Homo sapiens: one gene and its partners. The protein of the gene in region 2 interacts with the protein of the main gene of each other region in a biochemical or structural test. Each region holds a gene or a part of one and is shown on either strand. Other genes may lie near its edges.

Region 1 (7,022 bases), on a different chromosome or scaffold from region 2:
CCCCAGCTGGGCCCACCTATTGTTCGCCAGGGCCCCCACCCGATGTCTCCCACAACCCCCACCCTATGCCCGACTGGCCGCCCCTGGCCACACACAATGGGGCAACTTCCAAATTTAGCCTTTCTACCATTTCTTTCCAAGCCTTTACACCCCCACCCTCAGACGGCCCCTCCACACCCCTGGTGGGGGTCGGGATCTTGGAGATGAGGTTTCAATAGCAGGCCTGTTTCAAGGCAACCATGTGGCTATTTTTTCCTAATCAACTTAACCTTTCCACAAAGCGCATCTTTTCCCCATCTCCTCCCCACCAGGGACATTCCAGAGATGGCAGGGAGAAAGGAAAGGAGCCAGAGGGACAGATAGGCTCGTTGACGTAGGGGCTGTCAGGCTGGACGGAAGCGGACTAGTCATCAGACTCCCTGCAGTACCCGGGACGGACAGGCGGCAGGCGCCTTTGTCTTGGATGGGGCCAGTGGGTCGGTGCCAGAACTGGAGCCATGGGGTGCTGTGTGGAGGTGGCAGGAGCGTGTTCCCAATGCCCCTTAGTTTATTTGTGGCTCCTCACCCATGAGAGAGACAGAAGGGTCTGTCCACGCCTTAACATCCAGCTCAGAGGCCTCCCTCAGCCCTCACTTCCCAGCAGCCAACCTCTGGCCATGGGCTCTGGAAAGGACCGATGTCTCCAAGGAGGGCTGATGGGACTGAGATGGTGCCCAGGCTAGAAAAGGGAGCTGTCATTTGTGACCAGAGGAATCAACAGACGGCTGGGGGCAGAGGTGGGGCAACAGTTTAGAGAAGGGGAGGGAGACAGACACAGATACAGATACGGTGTGAGGGCCCCGGAGCTAGAGAGACCAGGCCCTAGAAGGGTGTGTGGCAGGGACTCCCCACCCCCAGCAGGCCCAACTCCCACCCCTCTTCTCCTCTTCTCTGTCTTCAGCTCCCACCCCCATCCCTCTCCCTCCCTCCCTCCCTCCGTGGCTCCCGCCTGCCCAGCGCGGCCATTGTCCGGGGCTCCAGAGGGGCTGTGTTCAGGGCATGCGGTCCCCCTGGGGCTTCTGGGAATTTCTCCATTCAGCACTTCCTATGGGAACGCTGGGTGGAGGGGCACTGGAAACTGGCCTTCAGTGCCCTAGGTCCCGGCCCCGCCCTGGAGGCCGAGGAGGGTTCACTTACAGTAGCAAAGGGGAAGGGTTATTTTTAACTCCACTGACATGGGTTCTGGCCAAAAATGTTGGCTAAAGAGCCAGGGATGCAGTCAGGATCCTGGGCCTGCAGCTGTCCTGGGGGCTGCTTGGAGGGTCCCTGCTCAGGGCCAGGACCCGTGCATTTATGGGGGCTGGAAGGAGGGACTGTTCTCTGGAGTGGGGGAGAGGCAAACCTCCCGCCTGCCCAGACACCCCGGCGGAGGGAGCCCCTGCCCAAGGTGGGGCCGCCTGGTGTCTGACTGTGACTTCTCCTGCAGAGGAAGATGGGGCCGAGTTGGACCTGAACATGACCCGCTCCCACTCTGGAGGCGAGCTGGAGAGCTTGGCTCGTGGAAGAAGGAGCCTGGGTAAGACTGAGACACCCAACAAGGGTCCTTCAAATTAGCATGGGGGCCAGGGAAAGAGAACGGGGGCGGGCAGCCAGTCGGAGGGCCCCGAGGGTCCTCTTACAACTCCCGTTCCCCCCACATTCAGGACTGAGCGAACTGAGAGAGTAAAACCATCCTTAAATGCCTGTGTTCAGTCATCACAGCCCCTCGCCCCCACACTCTCTGGTTTCTAAATATAGTGCTGCAAAGCTCATTCGTTCCTTATTTCAATCCTGGAGGTAGATATTATTAACCCCATTTCACAGAGTTGGAAACTGGGGCCCAGAGAGGGTAAAGAACTAGGCGAGGTCACACTGCTAGGGAGCGGTAGGGCTGAGATCCCAACCTGCTCCCCTCACTTGAACCCAGCGTGGTCCCTGATGGGCTATGGGTATCTCCTGTGGCAAAGGGCCGCGGCCTAGGCTGGTAGACCTCGAGCAAAGCCTGGAACTTCCTCCTGCTCCCTTGCAGAGACCTAAAGGAGACCGTAGATCATTAGGTCCCAGAGAAACCCTCCCAGGTGAGGCAAATGTCCACTCAAACCCCTCCTCCTCTTTGACACCTGGAGTCCCCAAAACACTGCAGTTAGAGGCTGGGGGAACGATGAATAAGAGTCAGGTGGCCTGGGCCGGGCATGGTGGCTCACGCCTGTAATCCTAGCACTTTGGGAGGCTGAGGCAGGCAGATCACGAGGTCAAGAGATGGAGATCATCCTGACCGACATGGTGAAACCCTGTCTCTATTAAAAATACAAAAATTAGCTGGGCGTGGTGGCAGGTTCCTGTAGTCCATGCTACTTGGGAGGCTGAGGCAGGAGAATTGCTTGAACCAGGGAGGCGGAGGTTGCAGTTAGCCGAGACCACGCCACTGCACTCCAGCCTGGCGACAGAGCAAGACTCCGTCTCAAAAAAAAAGAAAAAAGTCAGGTGGCCTGAGTTCCACCCCCAATCTATGAATGTGGGCGGACGGGATATTCAGCTCTCAGAGCCTCCTGTCCTCTGTACATGGATAGCATCGGTAACCTCAGTGCTTGCTGTAGGCAAGGCTTACTCACTTTACACCTTAGATCCACATGGGAGGGAGGTGCTGTTATTATCCCATTTCATAGAGGAGGAAGCTGAGGCTTTGAAAGCAGCAGTGATGCAGGAATCCAAGGCACCGTGAGACAGCAGTGCACGCGTGGTTTCGAGCTAATATGGTACCTGCATAAAAACCACATGTTGGGCAAGCCCATAAATGTGTAAAATCATAAAGAAGAATAAAATAGTCATGTGCCAGCAGAGGGAAGCGGACATTTACTAAGCATTTACAACATGCCCCACACTCTGAATTTTCTCACTTGAAACTACAGTGGTTCTTGGGTGTAGATCTCATGGTCCCATTTTCAGATGGGGAAACACAGGCTTAGAGTGGCTCAGCCATCTGCCCAAGTCCCATGGCTAATGACAGCCAGGACTTGAAACCTGAACCCTGGGGTTGAAGGGCGTGAGAAAGAGCAGTCCCGGAGGCACCCGCTGAGCTCCCCTGCCAAGTGGGGGGACTCTGGACAGGCCTACGCTCCTGACCCAGGTTTCGTCTCCTCCCAGGTTCCCTGACCATTGCTGAGCCGGCCATGATCGCCGAGTGCAAGACGCGCACCGAGGTGTTCGAGATCTCCCGGCGCCTCATAGACCGCACCAACGCCAACTTCCTGGTGTGGCCGCCCTGTGTGGAGGTGCAGCGCTGCTCCGGCTGCTGCAACAACCGCAACGTGCAGTGCCGCCCCACCCAGGTGCAGCTGCGACCTGTCCAGGTGCGTAGGCTCCGCGGCCCCCCGAGGCTGGTCCCGGTGGTGGGTGGAGACCACCCTTCTGGGGCTCATACCTGACCAGGCTTCCTTGACTGGGCAGAGTGGTGTGTCGAAGGACATTCCTGATTTGTTCCTGGGCTCTGTCCAGAGAGGCCCACTCTTGGGAAGCTCTTCCTAGGCAGGTGGACTGAGGCCGACCATGAGTCCTCTGAGGTGGCTCAGGCCACTGTAGCCAAAAGCCACAGACAGACCCCCCGGGCTGGGCGAGGTGTGGAGCCAACGTGAAGTAGGGATGTCACCTCCTTTACAAGGACAAAATCGCAAAACGTCCCTTGAAGAGCCGTATCCGCAAACATTTATCTGACACTCAGAATGTTTTGGGGAGCTACTCAGGTTCCCCCAAAGCTCTCCCTATTCAGGGCTGTCTTGAGAAAGGCTCAGATGGGTGGCCCTGCATCTTTGACACCTGCTTGTCTCTCTTTGACAAGCTGTGTCTTTAATAAAGAGAGTGCAGAGAGGCCCACCAGGTGATAGACACTGCGGAGCTGGGGCAGGTCCCCTGACAACAGTGGAATGCTGATCCTGCTTTTCTTCGGAGGGACGGGGGATACATACACTGGACTCAGGGAAAATTCTAGAGTAGAGGCTGTCTCAGGGAGCACCCTGGTCTCACCCTAGTCGGGGCAGAGTCAGAGAAGCTGCTGCTTCTGCTTCTTGTGGAAAGATTCCTGCACGCCCCAGGCCAGCCTCGCCCACAGGCTGGGCAGTGCGCATTTCTCTAGCTCAGCACCGGCCCTTGCCCGATGCTCTGCCTGCTTAGCCGCACTTCCTTCTCCTGCCACCAGCCCGTGGCCTCTCCTCCTGCCCACCTTCCCTCCCTGGCTTGGGCCCCACGCCTGAGACTACGAATGTCACTCCACCCCACTGCCCACTCTCGTGGTATCTCCTGTCCTCGATGCTTCCAGCTCTATGGATGGACACCTGACATCTGACCTCCCCGTTCCCACCTCCCTCCTAGATGAAGCCTCCCCCCACTTCCTTCCAGACAACCATCTCCCGCCTCTGCCGCAGCCCTGACCTTGGCTGGCGCTCCGGGAATGAGGATACCGCAGGCCCCAGCTCAACCCGGAAATGCCTTTCTGGCTGTCCCTCTCTGGGGGCACTGAGGGGGGCCCCAGGTCGGGAGGGCTTGTTTTGATGGAAAAGCTACGAGAAGGGCAGAGGTCAAGGTCCTGCTATTGTTTGGGCCAAAGCTTTTGCCCCACAGCCTGCTCTCCGGGCTTTCGAGGAAAGATTGCTGCAGGGGACACCGGGGTGGGAAGCGCAAGCCATTCGGGCTTCCCGGGCTCCTGGCTGTGTGGTCTCTACAGAGGCATTTTGTGGCTCTGTCCTCCAGGTGAGAAAGATCGAGATTGTGCGGAAGAAGCCAATCTTTAAGAAGGCCACGGTGACGCTGGAAGACCACCTGGCATGCAAGTGTGAGACAGTGGCAGCTGCACGGCCTGTGACCCGAAGCCCGGGGGGTTCCCAGGAGCAGCGAGGTAACCACCTTTCCAGGCTCAGCCCTCAGCCCCCTTCCCCTGCAGCAGCTGGGGGCAGGGGCCGGTCTTAAAAATGGAAATGGGATCAGGCCCGCCCCCGGTTAAATTCACGGGAGGCTTTCTTTTCATCTTGCTGAGACACAAGCCAGGTTCCTCCCTGGCCTGAGAGCCCTACATGAGGATTAGCCCCTGGCTGGCTCTCTGGTCTCTGCCAACCAGTACCCTTCACCTGTGCCACCCCCGCCGGGCAGGCCTCTTTCAGTAACTAATGGAGTTTCTGCCTCAAGGCTTTAGCACACACTGCTGTGGCTGAAGAACACTTCTCCCAGCTCTCCACAAGCCTAGCTCCTTCTCTTCATTAGAGTCTCAGCTCAGAAGTCACCTCCTCCTAGAAGTCTGCCCTGACCACCCCATCCAGAGCAGCGCCATTTCCAGTCTTGCTACCATAGCCCCCTGCTTTGTTGGATGTGGGGATGGGATGGTGGAAGGAATCTGGGCCTGGATGAGAGAAAGCTCCGCGCACATCAACTTCCGATAGTGAGCAGCTTGTCCTGGGGATGAGAAATCAAACGAATTTCTCGTATCCTTGAGCGGGGGAACCAGGACCAGTGGGGAGAAGCCACTGGAGAGAGATTTCAGCTCCATATGCAGAACAGCTAGCTGGTGATCAGTCAGGGGTGCAAGGTGGAATTGGCAGCATTGTGAGGCATCTCTACAAAAAATACAAAAATTAGCCAGGCATAGCGGCACACGCCTGTAGTCTCAGCTACTTAGGAGGCTGAGGTGGGAGGATCGCTTGAGGCTGGGATGTCGAGGCTACAGTGAGCCGTGATGGCACCACTGCACTCCAGCCTGGGCAACAGAGCAAGACCCTGCCTCAAAAAAAAAATGATTAATACGATTAGATGAGCGTTTAAAAAAATCACGTAAGTGATAGTTCTTTTTCAGTAACTTTCTATTGTTAGGGACAGGACAATCTTTTCATTCTCATTTCTTATTAACAAGACCCTGAAGACGGAGCCATTTCTTGGCATCTGTGTCTTATTCCCAGAGCTGAGCTGAGTCGCTGGATGCCATGGAAAGGCTGATCATATGACAGCTTCAAACTGACATGTTGTAAATTATTGAGTTAATATGGAGGGTGATTTCTCTATTAAGGGAAAATTATATATATCTATATATATATATATTTTTTTTGAGGCAGTCTCACCCTGTCACGCAGTCTGGAGTACAGTGGCACAATCTTGGCTCACTGCAACCTCTACCTCCTGGGTTCAAGCAATTCTCCCGCCTTAGCCTCCCGAGTAGCTGGAATTACAGACACATGCCACTACACCCGGCTAATTTTTGTATTTTTAGTAGAAACGGGGTTTCACCATGTTGGCCAGGCTGGTCTTGAACTCCTGACCTCAAGTGATCCACCTGCCTCGGCCTCCCAAAGTGCTGGGATTACAGGCGTGAGCCACCACGCCCAGCCTCTTTCTTTTTTAAGAGACAGGGTCTCTCTCCATCACCCAGGCTGGAGTGCAATGGCATGATCATAGCTCACTGCAGCCTTGAACTCCTTCCTGGGCTCAAGCGAGCCTCCCTCCTCAGCCTCCTGAGTAGCTGGGATTACAGGCATGTGCCACCACGTCCAGCTAATATTTTAAGTTTTTGTAGAGATGAGGTCTTGATTCGTTGCTCAGGCTGGTCTCTAACTCCTGGGTTCAAGTGATCCTCCCACCTCAGCCTCCCAAGGTGCTGGGATTACAGGCATTGAGCCACCACGCCTGGCCTTCTTTATGTTTAGAGTGAGTTACTTCATGTATTTGTTTGACGTAATTTTCTAAACCAGTTTCTTGGGAGGCGCATTATACCAGTGAAACGTAGATGATGTAAAGTCCCATCATTTTAGTTCCGGTATTTTGGTTGAGTATGACGGTGTTTCTGTCACCTGTCCATGGGCCTGGCTAAGGCTTGGTAGTGTGGCTCTCTGTGATAATGTGGTCAGTGTCAGACCTCCTGGGCTCAGATCTGCGTGTTGTCACTTGAGCTGTGTGGTGACCTTGTGCTTGCCTGGGCTTGGTATAGCCCAGTGTCCTGCTGATGGCCCAGGCTCTGGGGAAGAAACTCC
Region 2 (7,022 bases):
TGGGGCTGAATCCATCCTTTAGCCTGCCTTGGTCTTTCCCAGGGACCAGCCTAACTCTGAAGCTGCGGGGTGGGGGGGCCAGCCACCAGTCAACTCATTAACATACAAAGACACTTATCACTTCGGATTCCAAGAATTTCAGGAATTGTATGCCAGGAAACAAGAGGAAGACCAAAGATCTACTTCACAGCATGAAATCTTATGATATGGCAGTCACTCATTTACCAGTATCGTGTCTGCGACCTTCACAACACAATAAAGGAATACGTTATTATCCCTCATGGATAGATGGGGAAACTGAGGCACAAAGAAGTTAAGAAGGTTGCCCAAAGTCAAACAGCTAGTTGCTGTTTGGGCAAATAAATTTATTTTTATTAATTTTATTATTAAAATCCATCACTAAAACTGTCATCAGGAATTCAAATCCATCTCATCTGACTCCAGAGTCTGAAACTGATGCCTTTTGCAGTCTCAGAACTTAAATGAAAAGATTTGGAGCCAGAAGAGAACAGTGCAAGTGCTAAATTTTCAACGTAACATCTATCATACCATTACCAAAATTATTCTCACTTTAACTCAGGCACATGTCCGAATGCAAAGTATAAGAACAATTCCAACCACCTGCATATTTCCTAATTCAGAGTAAGCGCTGAACACACACTTACTGAACAAATTTTAAAGGCCAAAAGCAAGATACTGAGCTATCAAACTATTACTTCCTACTTTGTTTTCATGTGAATTCTTACTCTTGTTTTACTTTCGCTGATGTAAAAAAAAAAAAGAGAGAGAGAAATGGGCCTTTGGTTACAAATTGGCTTCTCGCCTAGGACAATACCCAAAGTTATTTATGTTTTAAATAAATGATCTAGTCAAGAGAAAAAAAAATCCATATATCATAATATATTAATTGATGATAACCTCCATGGAAAAAAGAGAAAATATCTATGATCAACATGAAATAATAAAGAAGTATGAATTATAGAATTTTTTAAAAAAAGTTTTAAAAGCCTAAATTCCTGAAGAAATACAATCTTATTATTTTCAAGTATTTGGGAAAACAAAATCTAATTATTATGGAGGCGCCCAATGGCTATTTAGTCAGACTAGACAGGCTTTAACAATTGATAAAAAGCATCTGGCGCTAGCATAATGTTTACATGAAAAACATGTTTGTTAAAGATAAGCTAGGAATGAGAAATCTTTCAAGAAGATCGCCCACTACATATCCTACGTAATAAAAACCGTGTCATCCCCTTTTCCAGTTAATATTATTGATTCTGGACCGGGTTTGTGTATGTGTCCGAAATAAATCGGATGCTGAGGCTGAACTAACCATTCCGTGGATGGTATTTTCCCCCATCACTGACCCATTTTCCTGCTTTGGTAAGTTTATCTTCATTGTATAGGCCATTTCCGGACCAAAATTTAGGAGTTATTTTAAACCACTAACCTTCAACCGTCTTTTATCTCTAGAAACCGGATTTGGCGGTCGTTAAGAATTCCTCACCAGGAAGCCGAGTGGCCGGGCCTGGAGGAGGTGGGAGGGAGGCAGAGGACCCATGTTCAGAGTCCTGCGTCCCAGCGCCCGCTGACTGGCTCTGCCCTGGGTCGGCCTCTGAGCTAGGGCGCTGAGCGCATCCTGCCCAAGTGTGCAAGCTCGCAGGCTCGCCGCAGAGGATGGCAAAACTCAGACTGAAAGCAGATCAGTTCTGAGACACCCACGCCAGGCTCCCGAAGAGGGGAGAAAGCCACGGAGGGCAGAGTCTGCTCCAGGCACCGCTGTGCTCATTTACCATCAGCCCAGCCCTCTCCAGATCCACTCAGGAGCCTCCACTTCCTGACACGCCACATGCATGTTTCTGGAACCTTCCTCCCCCGCCCATCTGACCTTCCAAACTGCACCACACAGCTGGAACCGGGATTGCGGGCAGGAGCAGAAATCAACGGAAAAAGAAGACAAAGAGAACGGGGAGGGCCATGTTACACGCAGGGGTTCAGCCTCAAAGTGAGTGCAAACTAACGTCCCGACACTGCAGGCCTGCACCTAAGGCTGCTCAAGCGGCGGCCTCAGTGAAAGAAGTCGGGCTGTCAGTAGCCGCACCCTCACCTGCTAGAAATGCAGATTCTCGGCATACCCCACACCTCCAAAAACAGAAGCTCTGGAGCTGTTTCGTGGAGCCCTCCAGCTGATGCTGCTGTGAGCTCATGTTGGACAACGGCTGAAGGAGATCCTTGTGTGGGCCCTTCCAGCCCCAAGGGGTCTTGATGTCATTACTTTGCTGTTTATGCTTCTGAATTTGTCTTTAATTTAACAGAGTAGTGCCTGGCACAAAGCAAGCTCGGTATAAATGCTTCACAGACATTAACTCACTTAATCCTTACATTTGCTCCCTAAGGAAAGCAACTGCCCTCATCCCCATCATACACATGAGGAAGACCAGGGCCCACACATTTCCCTGCAGGGCCTGTGACTGGTGCACAACCAGTGTGTCCCTGGACTGTCTCCTCTCTGGATGTAGTTGAGACGTTGCCATCGCCTTTCCAAAAAGTCGTGTGCACGTCTGACCCGTTAATGCCAGCTTCTTTGAGAAACAGACTTTTCTTTTGCCAGACTAATCGTAGGGTCCTTAGTCTGGTGGTAGCAAATACGTCACACACAACTCAGTATTAATTCTGTAACATTAAAATGGCATTGCATTCTTTAAAAAACTCTAAAATGCAACTCAAAAATTCAAGCTAATGATAAAAAAGAGTTGCTTATATTTTAAAATGACATTTCAAAGCTGGTGCTCTTGGATGATATGAAAATAAATGCCACTGTGCTCAGAAATCAGGCATTACTTGCACACAAGGGAACTGCGGATCTGAAAATAAATTTTGATTGTTTTATATTACATAGTAATATACATATAAATAAAGCATTATTAGAGATGTAATAGCCAAATCTTCCACCAATTAGATTAGATATTAATATTGTTTATTTAATAAATATGAAGGAAACAATACCAAAATGGTTATCATTGAGTTTATCTGTACAACGCTGAAACAGAGAACAAATACTGACCTAGTACCTTCAAAAATGCCCCATGTGCTGAATGTGAGGATTAGGCAAGGTTTATCTTTGTGCAATGAAGACACATAGTATTCTCCTCTGAACGTGCATCATCTGTCATTTTCTTCTGAATGTGGATCATCTCTAGGGATGAGTGTGGCTGCTGGGAAAAGTTTGTGGAAATAGCTTTCAAAACATTGAATTACAGCTGGAACACACTGGGTTTTGTTCTTCACAAAGGAATATCCTTGTTTTCTAAAGCAGAAACTTAATAAAATCTTTAAACAATTTTAATTGTGTCCAATACAGGAATAGTGTGCCTCCAGATCTTCTGCTGAATTGAGCAATGTTTATTTAAGTTAGCTGCACTCTCTATGAGTGAATACACAAATGGCTTCCCCAATTGTTGGTGTATTTGGTGAAATGAAAATAGAGCAACTGACATCAAACTGGATGCTTCCAGCTCACGGCCAGTATCTCTGGCTGTGGTCCTTGCTGGAATCAGTGGCCACAGTACACTAAGATGTGTATGTGTATGTATTACTAAACAATGGTAATTTTACAACTGAACAATGTACTGATTCTAAAAGCAACAGAAGATGAGGAGGTTGAATAGCTCTCCTTTATCAGGTAAGAGGTACAACAACAGAAACACAAAAGCCCAAGTGGCCTGGAAAAGATTGCTTTAATATCTGATTTGGACACTTGGCATTTGTCTTGTACCTTAAAGATCAAGTGAGCTTTAAAACTCAGATAAAATGAAATGTTTTTATAGTATGCAGATTAAAAACCAAATCCAGCAAAGCTTCCACAGAGAAAATTACTAAACCACGGAATAAACTATTTACATAAAGTGTTCAGCAGTGTACATATTTCCAAGTCATGTTTAGTCTGTGGTGGAATATCTACTCCAAATTCCAAATTAAGGGGAAACACCTTCGTTTGCCCAGATTCATCTTTGTGTTCACTAGTAATACCACAGGGGTGGACAGTGTAAGCCAGCAGGCAGCTCCCTCTAGGACACTCCGGGGGTGGGGAGGGGGCTCCCAAGAGAATGGCAGCTAGAAAATTGGAACCAATTACAAGTAATTAATTCCTGATTTCCTCCTCTGTGTCGGGCACTCTCCCAAACATGGTGGGATGCTTTAAAAAGAAGTTATGTCCTGGCAAGTGTTGGAACCAAGACACAAATGACAATGTAACTCCAAGCCATGTGGCAGCAACCACAACCAGCACCGCTCGAGTGCTTACTTCATGTGCACATGCTCTCCCTAGACATGGCGACTACCCTCACTGTATGTATTAGAGACTCCAAGCTCAAAGAGATTACAATGCTACTGAATGGCAGAGCAAGAATTGCAATTTAGGCTGGATTTTTTAAAATCCAGATAGTCAACAATATTTCACATTACCACTCTGACTCGAGAGGGGATCACGTGGAAAAGGGGCAGGCTGCGAACTGTTTCAGGAGCTTCAGTGGAATGCGTGCTAGCCGAGGGAAGACGAGAGGACACTGCAGGCCGGGGAGCAGGAGAAGATGAAACAGCTTCTGTGGAATGCAGAGATTATCCTTCCTTACAGTTACCAAAGCCGTATGTCGAGGAGTAGCAAGGAACGAGGCCAGAAAAATTTGACAGATCCGTACCACAAAGGGAATGCACAGCCAAGCCAAAAAGAGGGGGAACCCCAGTGAGATAGTAGGTGGCCATGGCAGATCCTGAACCAGCAAGTCTATGACCATAACTTAGGGAATTGAGGGCAATTAGCCTCTCACAGCCTGAGGAATGGGCTGGAGAGCACGAGAGCTGGGAGGAGGGGCAGGGCCATGAGGGTTCAGTGGTGATCCTGGCACAAGGCAAAGAGAGCTGGAAGGGAGTCCCAGCCGTGGGAAGGGAAAGCTGCGGGCACCTCTGGGAAGCATCCAGAAAGAAGTAGGAGACTTTGTGACTGAGCAGATGCAGAGGATAAAGAAGAGGAAAGGCTAAAGCCTCATAGTCTCTGGGCTCTGTACCCAGAAACATCAGAGGGCACCAGGACCAAAATGGCAGAGTCGGGAAGGGTTGTCAGTCCAGGTAAAAAATGAGTTCAGTCCTGAACATATTTGCTCAGTTTGAGATCAAAGCAAGACAGCCAAGGGGAGGCGTCGCGTGGAAATGTGAAGACGTTGAACTGGAGTTCAAGAAGGAGTTCTGGAGTCCCCTTCAGGGAGTAATGGTGCATCATGGAGCAGACCCCCAGTGGAAGTTAGAGAGTGCAAAGAACAAAGAGAACCACGCAGAGCTGCCCCTGCAGCTCACCCACACTGAGGGGCATGGGAAGAGGAAGAAGACAGAAGCAGAGACACGGAAAGAGCGCTAGGAGGGACCCATGTCCCAGAGTTAGGACCAGGAGAACAATGGAGGGAAACGAGGCTGGAACCAGCTCACTGTGTACCAGACTATCAAAGTCTTCACCCCAAAGTCATTCCTACAGTGTCAAAAGACTCAGAAGAAATTCACCATTAAAACATGCTCTGGTTGACATCCCTTTTCATTGTATGCATAAGAATGGTAGGAATATGTCTTTTGTATTGTTCTATAGTTGACATTTTTTCATGGTTGCTTAATAATAGCAGGAAGAACAATGCTCTAACATTATTTTAGGCATTCTATTGTTGCTTGAGCTGACTCTAGCCCAAGAACTCAAAATACCAAACCTCCTTGTGAGACATTTTAATGAGGTTAATCCTTCTTCAATTTGGGGAACAATTATTATAACAAATATCATAGAATTCATCAAAACCACTGTTGTCATTTAGCCACTTCTTGATGTTCTTCCACTGTCTACAAAGGTTTGTCTTAGATCATCACTGGTGGGTTCCATTTGTCTGCAAAATCTTTACCAGCTCTTAACTAAATAACTGAACTTGTTATGACCATCCTTGCCAGTTCTCAGAAATTTGCCAACAGCCTTGTTAATGAATAATGTAGGGTTTTGTGAATTCCCTCATGGCCTGGCCCAAGTAAGGGTAGGTTTTCTGGGTCAGTTCCTAAAGGCACTCCTGACTAGAATCAGTCATCCATGCCGCAACTTTCCAAACATCCCCTGCCTGCCTACCTGCCACCTCCGAGAAAAGGGACAGGACCACATACTGGGGCCTCAGTTGGAGCTGGGAGCTCTTTTTTAACACTGGTCTCCTAAACCCTGCCCTTCCAATTCTTTCCACCCCTCTGAGAGCAAAGTTCAGCCACCAAGATTGTTAATCACAGAAACAATGACATTTTGGTATCTCAAAGGAGCAAACTTGAAGGTCATCTTTCAGTGCAAAGACCCTTAGACTTGAGAGCAGACAGGCAGAATGACCATGTCTTCTGTGTATAGTACACCATCACAGTGCACATGGAAATGACATGCTGGTGTATAGTTCCTATTTCTCCCTCATATTTCAGAGGCGGAAGCCCCTCCCAGAAGTTTCCTCTGAGTTCCCCAAAGCTGGATTCAGTGTTCCTATAGCCCTTCGATTCCCCTGATTGTGACATTTACCAGCCTGACTTGGATTCGTCTGTTTCTTTTCCAATATTTCTCACCTGACCTTCCTGAGGACAGAGAGTGGGGGTGAGTCCCTGCCGCATGGCCAGCACCTGGCAAGGTCATGGCAGGAAGGAGGTGTTCCCGATGTGTGTGTGGAATGAAGGAAGGCACAAACGGGTCCGTGTGAGGAAGGGACAGACCTGCCAGGGAAACTGAGGTATAGAGTTTGATGAGTACCCCCAAATCATCTGCTTAAAAGCAGGTATAAAATGTAAGGTCCTCTGGTGCCTAAAGCACACTCATCCTGTGTACACGTGACTATTAATAATATATAGCATTGATAATTCTGTGAATCTAGTCAGAGTACATGAACATTGTGTCTTCTGGTTGGTCTTAAAGTTATGTCCCTTCACCCTAGTCCAATTCCATCTATTAATATAAAGAGCTTGCAGATATAAGG
Region 3 (7,232 bases), on a different chromosome or scaffold from region 2:
GGCTTTTCATTGGGTCGTGAAAACAGAAAGACACCGGCTTCTGCAGCCACAGAGGCCCAGCCCTGCGGCAAGAACGCGGCACCAGCTCGCAGGGATTACAGAGGGGGCCGGGCCCTGACCCGGGGGCCGCCTCCGCCCGCCCGCCCGTCGGACCGGGAGCCGCGCCTGCCCTTGGGGCCTCGCTCCGCGGGCTGCCCGCCCGGCGCACGGGCCAGGGCTCTGCGCCCAGGGTCTGGGCCGGATCCTGCCGCTCCCCCGGCCCGAGGGCAGGCGCGGGGCCCGCACACCTGGCGGAGGCCGCGGCTGAACTTTGTGTGACACACGCGGCGTTTTCCTTAAAGGCGAAAACAATCCCGGGGCGAGCGAGCAGCCCTCGGCCGCCGCTGGGAGAGAAAGTGGAGACTGGAAGAGAAACTCCTGACTCATCCGCCCGGGCGCTTATGGCTGGGGATTGGATTCTGACCTTTCGGTGCGCTCCTGCGCGGCGCCCCGCCCGGCCCCAGCTCGGGGCGCACAGGCCGCCCGCCCGCGCCCTCCCCGCGCGCGGAGGGAAGGGGCGCGATTTACCTACGGAGTCTATCTCCAGGAGTCGCTGGAGGTCCCGGATGCTGTGGATCTGACTGCGGGCCAGCCTCTCGATCACCTCGCGGGGGATCTCGGCTTCCTGCAAGCAGAGGCCACACGGTCAGCGCCCGCGGCCCCGACCCCGCCGGCACGCGCCCCCGGCCGCCAGGAGCGCCGCCGCCCCGGGCCCGAGGAGACCCCGCGAGCGCCGGCCGCAGTCCCCGCCCCAGCCCCCGCGGAGCCCTCGCCCCGGCCCTGGAACCAGAAGCCGGGGGTGGGGCTGGAAGAGACCCCAAATTCTCCACCCGCATCCATGTTCCGCCCTTTGCAAAATCAAAGCCCCCCCCCCTTTATATTTTCAGACAAAAGCCCCCGCACTCCGGCCCCTCCACCCGGGGTGTCAGTTACAGAAGGTCTAGGGGGCAGCGAGGGGGCCGAAAGTTTCTGATTTAATAGTGAGATCAACATCTAGAAAGATCAAGTTAAAATGCGTCACGGGTCGGCGAGAGTCACGGCAGCCCTAACACTTTAATCCAGGCAGGGCTTAAATTTCACGCCCCGGAATCCCGGGCCGAACCCGTGGAGAGGTCTCTCCGTCTCACAAACACACGCACGCGCGCGCAGACACACACACGCGCACACACATCTCACTCACACACTCGCCCCACCCCGGGCTCCGGCCCAGCCGCGGCCCTAGCGCCGACTAAGACGCCCAAATCCAGCCGGCGGCCGGGAGAAGAAGCCTCCAGGGAAAGCGAGGGTTAAACTTCCACCTCGCGCAGCTCTCCGTGCCCTGCGGAGACCACCCTCACCTCTGGCCTCCCCCACTCCCCTCCCCGATTTTTAAGGAGAGTCGGGGGTCGCTGGGGAGCCTGAAGCACTAAGTTCCCACGACGGGGGCTGTGGAAAGTCATTCATCACAGCAAAGCTCCCGGGGATGGGGATGGGGATGGGGATGGGGGGGCGGGGACGCCGCGGTGGGAGGGTGCGGACGCCTGGCCCAGCCCCAGCTCGCCTCGCTCAGCCACCTGTAAGCAGGCCCGGGCGGGCGGGACTGCGCCGGCCCTGAGCCCCGCCGGGCTTGGGGACTGGGAACCGAGGGCTGCAGCTTGGCGCTGCCCACCCTGCCCGGCCAGGGGCTTCCGCAGCAGCCGCCCCTACCTATTTATCCGCCGCCCTTCTCTCCTCCCCAGGCTCCGCCGGCTCACACACACCCCCTTCCCCGCTCCCCGCACCCCGCTGCTGCAGCGCCCGCTGCGCCCCAGCTCCCCTTCCCCGGAGAGGACACTGCGCCCCCCGAAGTTTCTGCCCACTCGTCCACCTCGCTGCTCCCCGGTCCCCCCGAGGCAGAGCGACCGACGCAACACGCTGGAAACTCCCCACACACACTTAGGCATGGCAGAAAATAGAACCCAGTTGGGAAAATCTAAACATCGACCACCCTGGCAGGAACCAAAACGCTCTCTGCAGAGCCCGTGGCGCCCCAGCCGGCGGGGGGTGTGCGCCGGAGGAGCCGGCGCAGGGACGGGGCGCGGGGGCGGCACCAACCTCGGCCAGAACATGGGCGAGGTATCCGCAGCCGAGGAGCAGCAGGCAAGCCAAGGTCCTCATCGCGTCCCGAGGCGCTGGCTGCTCGGAGGAGAGGCGAGGCCGCGGGGCGGGCGCTCCAGCCGGTCTCCTGTGGCGGCGAAATTCAGTACCATCCCTTAGGGAGCGCGGCCCGGAGGAGGGTGGCGCGGGGAGCACGGAGCTGGCGGAGCGCGCCCGGCGCGAGCAGTGAGTGCGGAGAGGCAGGCAGCGCCAGCCAGGAGGAGGAGAAACAGGGAGTGCGCGCCCGCAGCGCGGGGAGCCTCCTGGGCCGCCGGGTAGGGGGTGGGGACGGAAGGGGCGGAGGGCGGGGGCTGGGCTTCTTCCTCGGTGCGTTCCCGGTGCTGGCCGCCGCCGCGCTCGCTCCCCGCGCTGGCTTCAGGAGCGACCCGGCCGGTAATTCTGCATATTTGCGGACATCAGCCCCAAGAAGAACTCCGGAGGGAGTCTGGGGCCGCCGCCGCCGCCGCCGCCACACCGATCACCTGCCTGGACGCCTGGCCCGGCCCCGGCTGCGAGCTGCGAGCCGCCCTGCGCGCCCACCGCCGGCCCCGCGCTCGCCTCCGGCCTCCTCTTGCAGCCGCCGCCCGGCCGGGCACAGCGCGGCCCAGCACCCCCTCCGCGGCGCGCCCTCGGCTCCGGCGCCGCGCTCCGCCCTCCGCTCGCCGGGGCCGGGCAGCGCCCGCGGCCGAGCCGCCTGGCAGCCACCACCCGCCGCCCGGGGCCTCGCTGCGCCGCCCGCGCGGGCCTGAGGGCGGGCGCAAGGCCGAGTCGGCGCCTCCGCCGCAGCCGCCGCCGGGAGAGGAGGAGGAGGAGTAGGCGCAGGCCCGGCTCGCCGGAGTTGGGCGGGCTCCGCAGGGCGCGCGTGTGGAGCCGGCCGGCGGCGGGGAGAGGGTTATAGCGCCGCCGCCGCGCCCCTCCCCCGCCCCCGCCCCCGCCCCCCCCCCCCGCCTCCCCCGGATTCCGGGCCTGGGACCCGCACCTCGGAAGCGCTCGGGGTTCGTGCGGACCCGGCAGGGCCCGGGCGCCGCCGCCGCGGCAGGGAGCACACACGCGCTCGCGCAAGCAGCTAAATCCATCAAAGCCCCGCGCCCGGCTCCGCGCCGGGGCTCCGCGCCCCTCCCTCGAGCTTGCCCACCCTCCAGTGCCAGCTGCAATCCTGCGGCACCGGGTGGGGAGGGAGGAGGCCGCCGCAGAAGCGCCGCCGTCGCCGGCTCGCCTCTCTCGGGCCCCAGCGGCGGCAGCGGGCAGCGCCCAGAGCTGCTGCGCCAAAAAGGGCCAGAGAGCCGGTCCCCGCCCCCGCCCCGGCGCTCCGGCCGCTCTCCACGGTTCGGATCCAGGGCCCCAGCCTTCCTCTCTCCATAAAAGGAGGGGGAGTCAGTCTTTGGGGAAGGAGGGGGGCGGGTTTGGGGCACTCACCTGGCGGCTGCCACGCGCCCCCGCCCAGGATCCGAGGCCTGGGGCATCTGAATGAGGACCCTCCACCCACATTTCCACTTGGGAGCGAGCTCCAGTCGGGGAAAGGGCCTGCAGCCCGCCTCGTCCCCACCCTGGGACCCCGCGCCCCCCAGTCCCCCACTCCCGCGCCGAAGGCAGGGCCGCGCCCTGAGCCGGGAAGTCGAGGGGATGGAAGGGAAAGGAGCCACCGGTGAGGGTCCCCCGGGTTCTGAGCCTCCCGCGTCGGGATCCGTGGGGCGCACAGAGCGCCACCTCCGGCCGAGGCGCAGCTCAGAGCGCGATGCGGGGGAGGAACGCGCGCGGAGGCCGAGGTCTGAGCGTGGCTAGACGGCTCCCACGCCGAGAAAGGGCGGGTGCGCCTGGGCTGGATGGATTTCGCCTCCCTAGACCAGGAGGGATTGGACCCTGACTACAGGTCCAGGTGCTCGTCAGTGCCCTGCCAGGGGGTCTACGCGTCCTGGTACCGGGTCCAGCGGGGTGGCGTGCTGTGCAGACCCCGAGGCTAGACGGCCTAGGCCCCTGGAGCCCAGGAGACGCTTCCTTGGGTGAGCAGCGGAGAATCCCGCCCGGCCCAGCCGTCACCCCCAACCCTGTCGATTAAACCCCTGCCCCCGTCGCGGTCGCCCTCCCTCCAGACAAAGGCCGTTAAGGCGCAGCCCCGCGGGCGGTCTTTCATCCCCAGCTAGGCCAGCTCTAGCATTTCAAAGGCCGAATCCGGAGAGCGCTTCGGGGGCTCTCCCCTTCCCCCAAATATTTGGGGAGCGACGCCTCTCCCTCCGCTCCCAGTGGGTCGCGTCTACACGCGCCCTTCCACACACCTGCAGGCCCCCTCCCCACGTCTCTCCCTTCCGTTGGCCGCAGCCCCACACCACGACCCCCGCGGTCAAGCATGCCCTCTGGGTGGTCAGGACCAAGCGGGACCGGGACAGAACCAGGGGAGCCTTGGAAACGTGGAGGAGCCCCTTAAAGCCAGGCCTTGTCCCTCCAGGGGGAACTTGCGGCTTGGGAGGGGACACCCACTGCATGGCTTCTGGAAAGAGCCGGACTCGCAGGGCCAGGACGCAGGCCGGACCCCGGCCTCATTCTTCGGCCAGTTATCCCGGAGTGGCGCGCATCCTGTCTTCCTGGGCCTCGGACTGCTCGCGCGCAGAGGGGGCCCGAGGACACCTCTGTGGGGTTAGAGGACTCGGTAAGACGGTGTGGAAGGCAAGGAGGAAGGTCGCGTTGTATTGGGGATGGGGTACCCGTCCCTCCCAGCTTGAGGGATCCTGGGGGTCCTCGCCGCCTCTGAGGGCCTAGATGGCTGCTTCCCTCGGCTCCCCTGCCCGGCCTGGAGCTACGGGTGCGCCCAGCTAGAGTTTAGGGCCACCTGGGGACGTGCAAGGGGCGCTGGAGCGAGGCGGGGGCTGGGGCGGGGCGTGGGTGCTTCACCCGCGGGGGACGCAGAGCTTAGGCGAAAGCGGTGCAGGCATCTCTCTAATCGCCGGCCGCTATTAAAAATAAAACCGCGACCCGTCGCCATGGCGACCACAACAACAGCGGCCGCGCGAGGGAGGCGAAAACTTGTGCAGCCGCGCGACAGCCGCCTTCTGGGGAGACTCGGGGCACGACGCACCCGGCGTGGGACTGGGACCCCCCTGCCCGGCCCCGCCACATTCTCCGCCGGATCCCCGGAAGACACAAGGAGACGTGGACCCCCACAGGCTTTTTTGGGGGGATTGGGCGTTGAAACCGCAGGGCTGACTTAACCAAGAGGTCACCGACTTGGATAAAAAACCCACGCCCGCGCGGACCCCCCTCCCCGGCCTTCGTTTCCATTCAAACTCCCAGCGTCCTCATTGCAGCCCCTGGGGAGGGGGACGGAGGGACGAGGTGGGTTTCAGGTGCTCGGCCCAGGAGGGGACGGTGCGACCCGGGCCCCGCCGGCGGGTTTTGCGCGCGGAGGCTGCGGCACCTGCCCCGCCCGCCCTGCCGCGATCCTTGCAGACGGGGGCGGTCACATGCTTCTTTCTGGCCAGGAATCGAGTTTCACTTCCAGCCGCTATTAGTCGGTTCACACAGTTCACTGCAAACATTTGATAATGAGGCTAAATATACTCCCGCGTCGGAGGAGGCGTGGGCGTCCCCGCCCAGGCCCGGGAGACAGAGGCGCTGACCCCGGGACAGAGCCTGGCTTTGTGCGGGAGGCAGACGCGCCCCGCGCGCCGCCCCCGAAACATTCGCACCCCATGCTGAGGCGCGCGTCTGGGAGTCCGTGGGCGCCCCGAGGTGAGCCCGGGGCCCCTGGCGGAAGCAGCGGGGAGCTCCCGGCGGGTGCGGGGAGGTGCTGGTGGGAAGCAAGGTGCACCTGGCGGCCTGGGATGTCCGGTCGCCCCCGGAGCCGGTGCATCCGGCCTCTCCCGGCGCGCCCCGACGTGCCCGCGGGCTCATAATTACCGTGAGTCAGGTGCCCCAAATAGGCCGAGCGAGGGGGGCCGTCGCGCAGCAGGGGCGGGTGGCCGGACGTCTGCCCGGGACTGGTTGCCTCCCGCCCCTCCCCAAGACCCTGGCACCCAGGGAGGGCGGGAAAGGCCTTGGCCATTCCTCTGGGTAGGGGACTGGAGAGGGGAAGAAACTTTCGCCGAGTCCAGCGCTGCCCCCTCATACCCATCCCCACCCAGGCTGCGTGTCCGGGGCCCCTCCGGGGCTTGGCACCAGCAGGCACGCAGCGATCGCCGTCGTTGTTATTTAGTAGTAGTAGTAACGGCTGACATTTACAGCGACGTCGATGGCGCCAGGTGCCAAGCTCTTTCCTTGTATAATTTCATGGACACTCACGCATCAACTCTAAGCGAAGACTTGGAGCGGGGCTCAGCACCCCAGGGGTACCTCTGCAACCTCGGTAAATATAGACTATCCTCAATTCGCAGGGGCATTTGTACGTGGGGTGTACAGGCAGGAACAGGAAAGACGCTGTGGCCACCCAGGAGTAGGGGCGGCAGCCAACACCCCCTGGATCCCCAGTTCCAAGGTGCAGGGAGGGGGGCAGAGGCCAGTTCCCTCCGCTCTCTGCCCCTTGACCTTGGCCTTGGTGAGCTCTGTCCCTAGACTGCCCTGGGTGTCTGTTCCCTCATCTGAAAAGCGTGAGGCCCACAGCCGTCACTGCACACAGCTGCCGTCACTGCACACAGCTGCCTCCACTGTCGGGAAGCCTCCCTCCTGCCCACCTGCCCAGGAAAAGCTGCGCTAGCGTGCCCTGGGCAAGCGCCCTGCTGGCCACCTGCCTGCACCTGGGTTGGGGGTGGGGGGACCAGCTGAGCACCCAAATCCTGGCCTCTGCCCCCAGCGCCAGAGCAGATTTCAGAACAATTTGTAATGACGAAACCCCACGTTTCCCTTTATCTCTGGGCAAGGCTTTCTTCGTCCTAGGCAATTAATCCAAAAGCAACACCAGCCGAGTGGGCTGGACTCCTTGAAGATCAAAACTGCCCAGCGCAGGCATTAATTAAGTCATTATCTCAGGCCCCCAGCGACTAGGGATCAGGCCTTTCCAGTTCACACTCTCCAGAAAGGGAGATAACTGCCCCGCCAGCAGGGTGGGAAGGCTCTCTCTCCATGTTGTTTTAACTCCCTATTAAATCATT
Region 4 (7,022 bases), on a different chromosome or scaffold from region 2:
CCCTCCTACACTTACATCATGCTCGCCACCGTCCCACAGGACCAGCATGTGTCCCCTTCAGAAGGGGCTCTCAGGCTGCACCTGAGCCTCCCTGCATGCCCCGCTCCCCATCACTCAGGGACAAACCCAGGTCGGAGCACTGAACCACCCGCAGGTGGCAGTGGCAGCCGAAAGGACACATGGCGCTGTAGGTGGGTGTGACAGAGTCCGGGTCCAGGACGCCCGAGGTGTCAGCGCCCGAAGCTTCCTCATCGTTCATCATGAATGGCCCATCGTCCAGGGTGAAGTCCCAGAAGCCTCTCTGCTCAAAGGGCAGGGCCTGGCTCAGGGCCAGCAGAGACACGAGGCGCCACAGGGGCCACATGGCGGATGGACCTGGGGGAAGAGGCGAGGGGATCATCAGCACCAGCACCCACCTGTCTTCTCCATGCCAGGGGCTGGTGTTCCGCGTGTGTGGTGGCACTGCGTTCCCATCCCTCACCAGGGACGGCCAGACCCTGGAGCGGGAGGCGGAGAGGGCGGAGTGTGGGCAGAGGGCTCCAGGCAGGAAGGGAGTGGATGCTGCTGGCAAGGAGGGTGCCCCCTCCACTCCACTCCCTTCACTGCTTCCACTACCCCCCTCCCCATCCCGGACAGGACTTGGCTTAATCAGGCGATGAAATGTCTCCTCATCAGCAAGTCTGCAGGCCCCCACGCCTCTGAGTCTGCCAGAAGCCTGCTTTAGGGCGGGGGCGTCCATGAGGCTGCGTGGAGGAGGTGGAGGAGGAATCCTAGCCATTGGCCCTCAAGGGCTTTGAAGAATTCACTTTTGGGGACATCACTGTGGCCTCCTACCCGGGCCGATCCTTCCTTTGAGTTCTGGGCTCAGGGCAGCGTGGATGAAGTTAGTTGAGTGCGGCGACTCTGAGTTGCTTCCTCCCTCCACCCTGCCCACGTTTCTCAGAGACCCTCTAAGGCCAAGGTAGGGAGGCAGGGCGGAGAAAGAGGGGGTATCCTTGGAGGCCGTGGGTAAAGTTGGCTGAGGCAGCACTGAGTGGAGGCCCCCGAGGTGGAGGCCGTGGCGCCCCCAACACTGCCCCTGGGCCTTGGCTTCCTCCTCTGGACCACCCGCCCCAGCCCCCCGCCCACACCGCCTTGGCCCAAACAGCCCTGGAGCTCCCAGATCTGCTCGCACCCTTCCTCCCTGCCCACAGCCTCGGCAGCCCAGAGAGGCCCCCCAGGGGAGCAGGCTGCCGCCAGGGTGGCAGGGCAGGGTCAGGCTTGCCTGAGGCCCCCCAGGCCGAGGCGGCGAGTGGGAGTGGAGGCGAAGCAGCCCTGCCCGAGCCTGCCCCCAGCACCCACCTCTGCTTGCCTCCTCCCTCCTCATCAGACACGGTCTCCCGTCCAGAGGCAGCCGGGAATGTGCCCTACAGGAAGAGGCTGGAGCCCTGCCTCTCTCACCACTTCATCCACCCTGACTCTCCAGCAAAGGCCCAGGTCTCATCCCAGCCTCACCTTCCCCATCTGTTAAGTGGGAATAAACATGCCTGCCCTGCTTGCCACCCAGCCTGGGGTGGCCCTCGGTGCATCTGGAGATGGGGAGCCCAGCTGGGCAGCAGGGGCCTCTGGCAGACCTGAAGCAGTCGCACGCCCAGGAGACCCTCACTTAGGGCCAGTACTAGCTGGGGAGGGGCTGTCTGGGGCTCCAGCAGAGCGAGGTGAGCCCCCTAAGCCCAGCTGCTGGTTGCAGGGGTCTAAGGAGGCCGTGGGGAGGTGGGGGCTCTGCCCCCAGGCCAGCACCCTATGAGCAGCCCCGCCCTGCCCGATGCTTCCCCAGTTGCCCTGGGGGCTGGGCTGGCTGCCCGGGGCTGCCGCTTTGGAGTCCTTGCTACCAGCGGGCCGGGGGCCTGAGGCCACTTCAGGGCCAGGTTGGGTCTGAGCACAAGCCCAGGAGAGGGTTGGGATGGAGGCCTGTCCTGTCGCCCCCATGCAGCTCCTCGGGTGCTCCAGGGAGCATCTGCTGGCACGCGTCCCCCCTGCATTGGCATCCCCCCTAGAAGCCACCCATGCGCCCTCCCACACCTGTGGACAGAGGGGCCTGTGGTGAGGCTGTGGCTATAGCGGCTGCCAGGCCTGTGGAGTGGCCTTTCCGCAGCCAGCCCCGGAGCCCTCCTGAGCCCACAGGCCCTGGGCCACACTGCAAAGTGGGAGTCGGAGCCCAAGGCTTAGCTCAGCTTCCCCCTCATGTGGAGCTGGACTTCATGCTGACCCCTGGGGTCACCAGGAGGCCCCTGCTGGGGCAGCACCGAGCCTCCCTCATTCTTTTGAGCCTTGAGATCCCACAGTTGCAGCCCAGGGCCTGCCAGCCTCAGGCCGGCCCAGCAGAACCTAGGGGAACCGCCCGGAGGGTCTTGGCCCCCAAGTAGGGAGAAGGCTCAACACTCACCTACCTGGATGGTGTTTCCCTTCCTCCAGGGCAGGGCAGGGCCTCCGATGCCTGCTGCCGCTGTAGGACCCTCTCCCAGTGCCAGTGGACACCCGGGGGCAGAAGGAGGAGGAGGAGGAGGAGCAGTGGGAGAGAACAGGAAGGGCAGGGTGGAAGCAGGAGAGCAAGATGGAGTGGGGGAGGGAGGAGACTGCCCTGCCCCTCCTTGCCGATGCCCCTGCCAAAGCCGCTACCTCCCAGGGAGAGTGAGTCAGGGCTGGGACACCCCGCCAGAGCCCTGGCAAGCTCCAGGGTGGGCAGTCCACCTGGACAGGTAGGGTTGGGGTGGTCCGGCTGGGCCTACGGGAGGCTGTGGGGAGGGGCTGGGGAAGGCCGAGGGGACAGAGGACCATCTGACCATGGCCAGCTTGGAGCCCCCCAGGACCCACGCATTGGCCTGGAGGAGGACTCTACAGGGACTCCTGCCCCGGGGCAAGGGGTCTCCCCAGGAGCTGGGACTTCCCTGCAGGCCCTCCTGTTAGGGAATCGGGCCCTCCACCAGGGCAGGGGGCACAGGCACAGGGCAGGCCAGTCACGGCAAGACTGGCCATCGGGGTCTCAGGCGGGTTCCCGGGACCAGCTGTGGGGCAACGAGGGCTCTGGAGGCAGGCTGCCTGATACAGTAGGATGTCTGGGGGGTCTCCAAGAGACTGAGAAAGGGGCAAGGGGAAGAGGTTCCCTCAGAGCGGGGAGGGAGGCTGAGGGCTGGAAGGCCCATACACCCGGGCCCCGTGACAGAGGCAGAAGGACAAGGTTTGGCTGGTTTTCCATGGCTCATGGCTGTGCCCAAGCAGTGGGCAGGCTGGAGGGGCGGGGGCCGGGCAGGCTTCCCGGCACATCCCTCATTTCCCCTCAAAGAACTGGCACAAAACTGAGACCTCTCCCGAGGAAGGGGCAGGCTCCGTGTCTGAGCCCACAGGAGGCAGCAAGGGGCCCATGAAGTCAGAGGGAGCCAGGGGAGCCTGGGGGGAAGGATAGGATCCCCTGGAGCTGGCCTGATGAGTATCCCCATTTTATGGACACAAAAGCTAAGGCCGAGAGAGAGGCTCTGATTTCTCCCAAGTCACTCAGCCTGACTTGGAACTCAGCTTTGGCGCCTCCAGGCCCCGCCTGAGCTCTCAGCTGTGCTCCTCAGCCACAGGGCTCCAGCCATGTCTCTGGGCCTGTGAGAGCCTGAATGCCCAAGACTGGGGGTGGCAGTTTGGGAGGTCCTGGCAGTATAGGCTCAGCTGTCCTCCCAAAGCCTGGCCCCTGCCTTCTCCCCACCACCTCACACCAAGCCCCTCCCTCCTGCCAGAACATGCACACACACACACGTACACACATACACACACAAACACACACACAGATGCACACATACACGCTCACATACACACACGTGCACACGCACACACCTATACAAAACACATATGTACACACGTGCACACACACATGCACACACCTATACAAAACACATATGTACACACATCCACATGCATCCACATACATGCACACATCCACACATATACGTGCACACACCTATACACACATGTACACACATATACATGCACACACCTAGACACTCACACATGCATACCCATGTATACACATTCACATACACATATGATACACATATACACACATATATACACAGATGCACACACACTCATGCACACATCTATACACATACATGCACATGTACATCCACATGCGCACATGCATGCATGTATACACACATGCACACATGCACACATACACACATGCACACACATGCACACACACGCACACATACACATTTATACACACGTACACACACACACACATGCATACATGCACACATACATACATACATACCTGCACATATACACCTGTATACACGCATACACATATGTACACACATACATGCACACATCTATACACACATGCATACACACATTCACATATACATATGTATACATATACACATACATACACATATATCCACACATAGATAAGGCAGGCGGGGACCCCAGCCCAGGAAGCAGGAATACCCCATAGTCAGATCCTGTGAGACCCACAGCAAGTCCCTCCAGTCCTCAACTCTCCACCACCACAACTGAGGCCTCTGGGCCTCAGTTTCCCTTCATTGGCCTCTCTGGGTGTGTCTTCAGGGACTTCAGGGAGGGTTTCAAGCCCCACCAAAGTGTGCCCTGAGCTCCCTGGATACCATCTCTTTAGAGCAAAGGACAGGGGCGGCAATGGCATAAGCCCCAGGTTTGGCGACCGCAGGTGTGAGTGAGGGAGGAGGCTGGGCTTCCTGGAGCCTCCGCCACCACCCCAATAGGGCCCTCCTTGTCTGCCCCTCTGAAAGCTAGCGCAGTCCTCTGCACTGGATTGCTCGAGGTCACAGCCAAACAAGATGCGTTGGCAGCCTCTGAGAACATGGAGGGTCCGTGCCAGGCATTCAGGCCAGGCCAAGGGCGGCGGGAGCAGGGCTTGAGGTCTGGCGGGCCCTGGGAGCTCGCCTGCAGATGGTGTGGCTCACAGCTGCCAAGTGGCAGACGCCGGATGCTGTCTCCGCAGCCTCAGCCCTGGGCGTCTGCCCCCCTGAGCAACCCGACCTGAACTCTGACACATGTGCCACCTTCCACGCAGCCCTGCGGGGTCCCCGGGACTGTGTCCTTCCTCCCCTCCCCTCTGGCCTCCAAAGCCTTTTGGGCCCAGTTTCAACCAGCAGCCTGGTGCTTGTGCCCCCGCTGACACCCGGCCTGCCCCCTGCCACTCTCCCAGGCCCCAGTCCACCAGTCCCTCCCCGCCGATGGCTCCAGCCTGTACTTGGGCATCAACCAGAGAGGGGATGTGTACCCTCCCTGGCCTTGCCAAAGCCCGGCGTGTGCGTTCATCTGTGGGAGTGGCTGCCTGAGGGGCTGGGGGCTGGAGTGGGGAGGGGTGGACCTTGTGCCACATTCCAAGCCCCTGCCGTTGCCGGAGCATGCCCTTCAGGCAGCCACGCTTGGGCGTCTGCTCCCCTTGCAGCCACGTGTGGAGGGGCTGGGAAACCCCGGCTCATCTGCTGCTCAAATCCTTTCCAGAGGTTTTCTGGCAGGGTGGCGACAAGGGTGGAGTTCTCCCTTGATGCGCCCAGCCACCTCCCACCTCTCTGTGCCAGCCCTTTGCAGCCTGTGGCGCCCATGTCAAGGTCCAGCCTGTCCCCACAGTCGGCGGAGTGCGGGACTCAGCCCTTCCCACTGTGCGCTCCTGGTCCTCTGCACACGGACTACTGCTGCCCCCTCCCACTCTCCGAAGAGATCCGGGGCCTCCTGCTAGAGTCTCCAAGGAAAAGGGAGGATGCTGTCACCTCTCAGAGGCAGAGCAGGGGACTCATGTGATTTCTTTACTTAGCATCCTGCCGTCCCCCGTTGACTATAAGAAGGAAGCAATGCTCTTAGAACTTGATGAAGGGGTAAACTGAGGCTCAGGAAGTTGGCCCCAAACTCTTGCCCAAGGCCACACGGTGAGGAAACAGCAGAGCTGGGGCTGCACACACTGTCTGTCTGTCCGTCTGTGTCCTTGCCCCCATGTCTGGACCCACCCTCTCCCAATGCACACAGTGCCACAGGCCCCAAAGCTGACACGCTTCACACTCTCGGGGCTGTGCAGGGGGCTCCCCTGGAAGCATGGCCCTTCTGAGGACCATCAGTAGCTCCCTATGGCCCACAGATCCAGAAGCCCCTCCTCAGCCCCAACACAGCCAGCAGGGCAGCCCCCGCCCAGCCTCTCACCTCTGCCTCTGTCTGCAGGGAGTCTCCTGGAAAAGCCATCGTCTCCCCAGGCGAGCACTTCAGGGCCCCAGGGAAGGTGTTCCCGGCCTGCCCCCCAGAGCCTGGGGCCCTGCCTCCCTCCCTCCCTGGTACAGGCCCACCAAGGCCAGGAGGGGAGGGGAAGGTTTCCTGCAGCCCCTCCCTGCCGCAACCCGCTCTCTGCCGGGGGCTCAGGCTGGGCTGGGATTAGCCTCCTTCAGCCAGCCAGGGTGGCCCACAGCCTGCTTAGCTTCAGGCTCCTGGGACTGCTGGGCTCCCATGGGTGTGTGTCTCTTTGCATGAGGGCAGCCTCCAAGAACCATGGGATGGCAGTCAAGGCCAAGCAGGGACTCAGACTTCCAGAGGATAGAAGTCACACTGGCTTCCCAGACTTCCCCTGCCTCCAGGGACAGGGCTGCCTTCTAATCTTCTGGCCACCCAGGAGTCTGCCCGCCATGCTCCCCTTGGCCCATCTGAACACCTCAGGGACCAAACAGGACTGGGATGGCCAGCAGAGGCAAGTTCAAGAGGCCCACAGAGTCCGTTGGGCCCCTGGTCCTCCAGCTTATCTCAGGCCAGTGTTTAAGTGGAGCTCAGGCTTAAGATGCAGTGGACCAGGAGAGTTCCATGCAAGAAGGCTGGCTAGAGCCCCAGGCCCCTAAGCCTCAGAGATGAGCCTCATGGGAATGGGCAGCACCTTCACCAGGCCTGCCAGGGAGCCGGGACCTGACCCTGCCCCTTGGGCTGGCTGGGATCAGAGCTGCGCAGGTGGGAAGCTGGGAGTGGGAGGGTTCTGCAGT

What was found.
Region 1: the proteins of COL4A1 (region 2) and PDGFB form a complex in vitro, tested with the Homo sapiens proteins (one study listed by BioGRID).
Region 3: the proteins of COL4A1 (region 2) and PDGFA form a complex in vitro, tested with the Homo sapiens proteins (one study listed by BioGRID).
Region 4: the proteins of COL4A1 (region 2) and BGN form a complex in vitro, tested with the Homo sapiens proteins (one study listed by BioGRID).

Annotation. Positions count from the first base shown.
Region 1 is NC_000022.11:39,227,968-39,234,989, reverse strand, and holds part of PDGFB (platelet-derived growth factor subunit B isoform 1 preproprotein), read left to right. Parts: intron 1-1,465; coding exon 1,466-1,555; intron 1,556-3,162; coding exon 3,163-3,368; intron 3,369-4,761; coding exon 4,762-4,906; intron 4,907-7,022. UniProt on the Homo sapiens protein: Growth factor that plays an essential role in the regulation of embryonic development, cell proliferation, cell migration, survival and chemotaxis. Potent mitogen for cells of mesenchymal origin.
Region 2 is NC_000013.11:110,297,155-110,304,176, forward strand, and holds part of COL4A1 (collagen alpha-1(IV) chain isoform 1 preproprotein), read right to left. Parts: intron 1-7,022. UniProt on the Homo sapiens protein: Type IV collagen is the major structural component of glomerular basement membranes (GBM), forming a 'chicken-wire' meshwork together with laminins, proteoglycans and entactin/nidogen.
Region 3 is NC_000007.14:516,827-524,058, forward strand, and holds the start of PDGFA (platelet-derived growth factor subunit A isoform 2 preproprotein), read right to left. Parts: upstream 3,021-7,232; 5' UTR 2,243-3,020; coding exon of another isoform or gene 2,176-2,242; coding exon 2,113-2,175; intron 1,504-2,112; exon of another isoform or gene 1,479-1,503; coding exon of another isoform or gene 1,377-1,478; intron 1,162-1,376; exon of another isoform or gene 1,033-1,161; coding exon of another isoform or gene 973-1,032; intron 665-972; coding exon 568-664; intron 1-567.
Region 4 is NC_000023.11:153,497,974-153,504,995, reverse strand, and holds part of BGN (biglycan preproprotein), read right to left. Parts: intron 380-7,022; exon of another isoform or gene 376-379; 5' UTR 365-375; coding exon 127-364; intron 1-126. UniProt on the Homo sapiens protein: May be involved in collagen fiber assembly.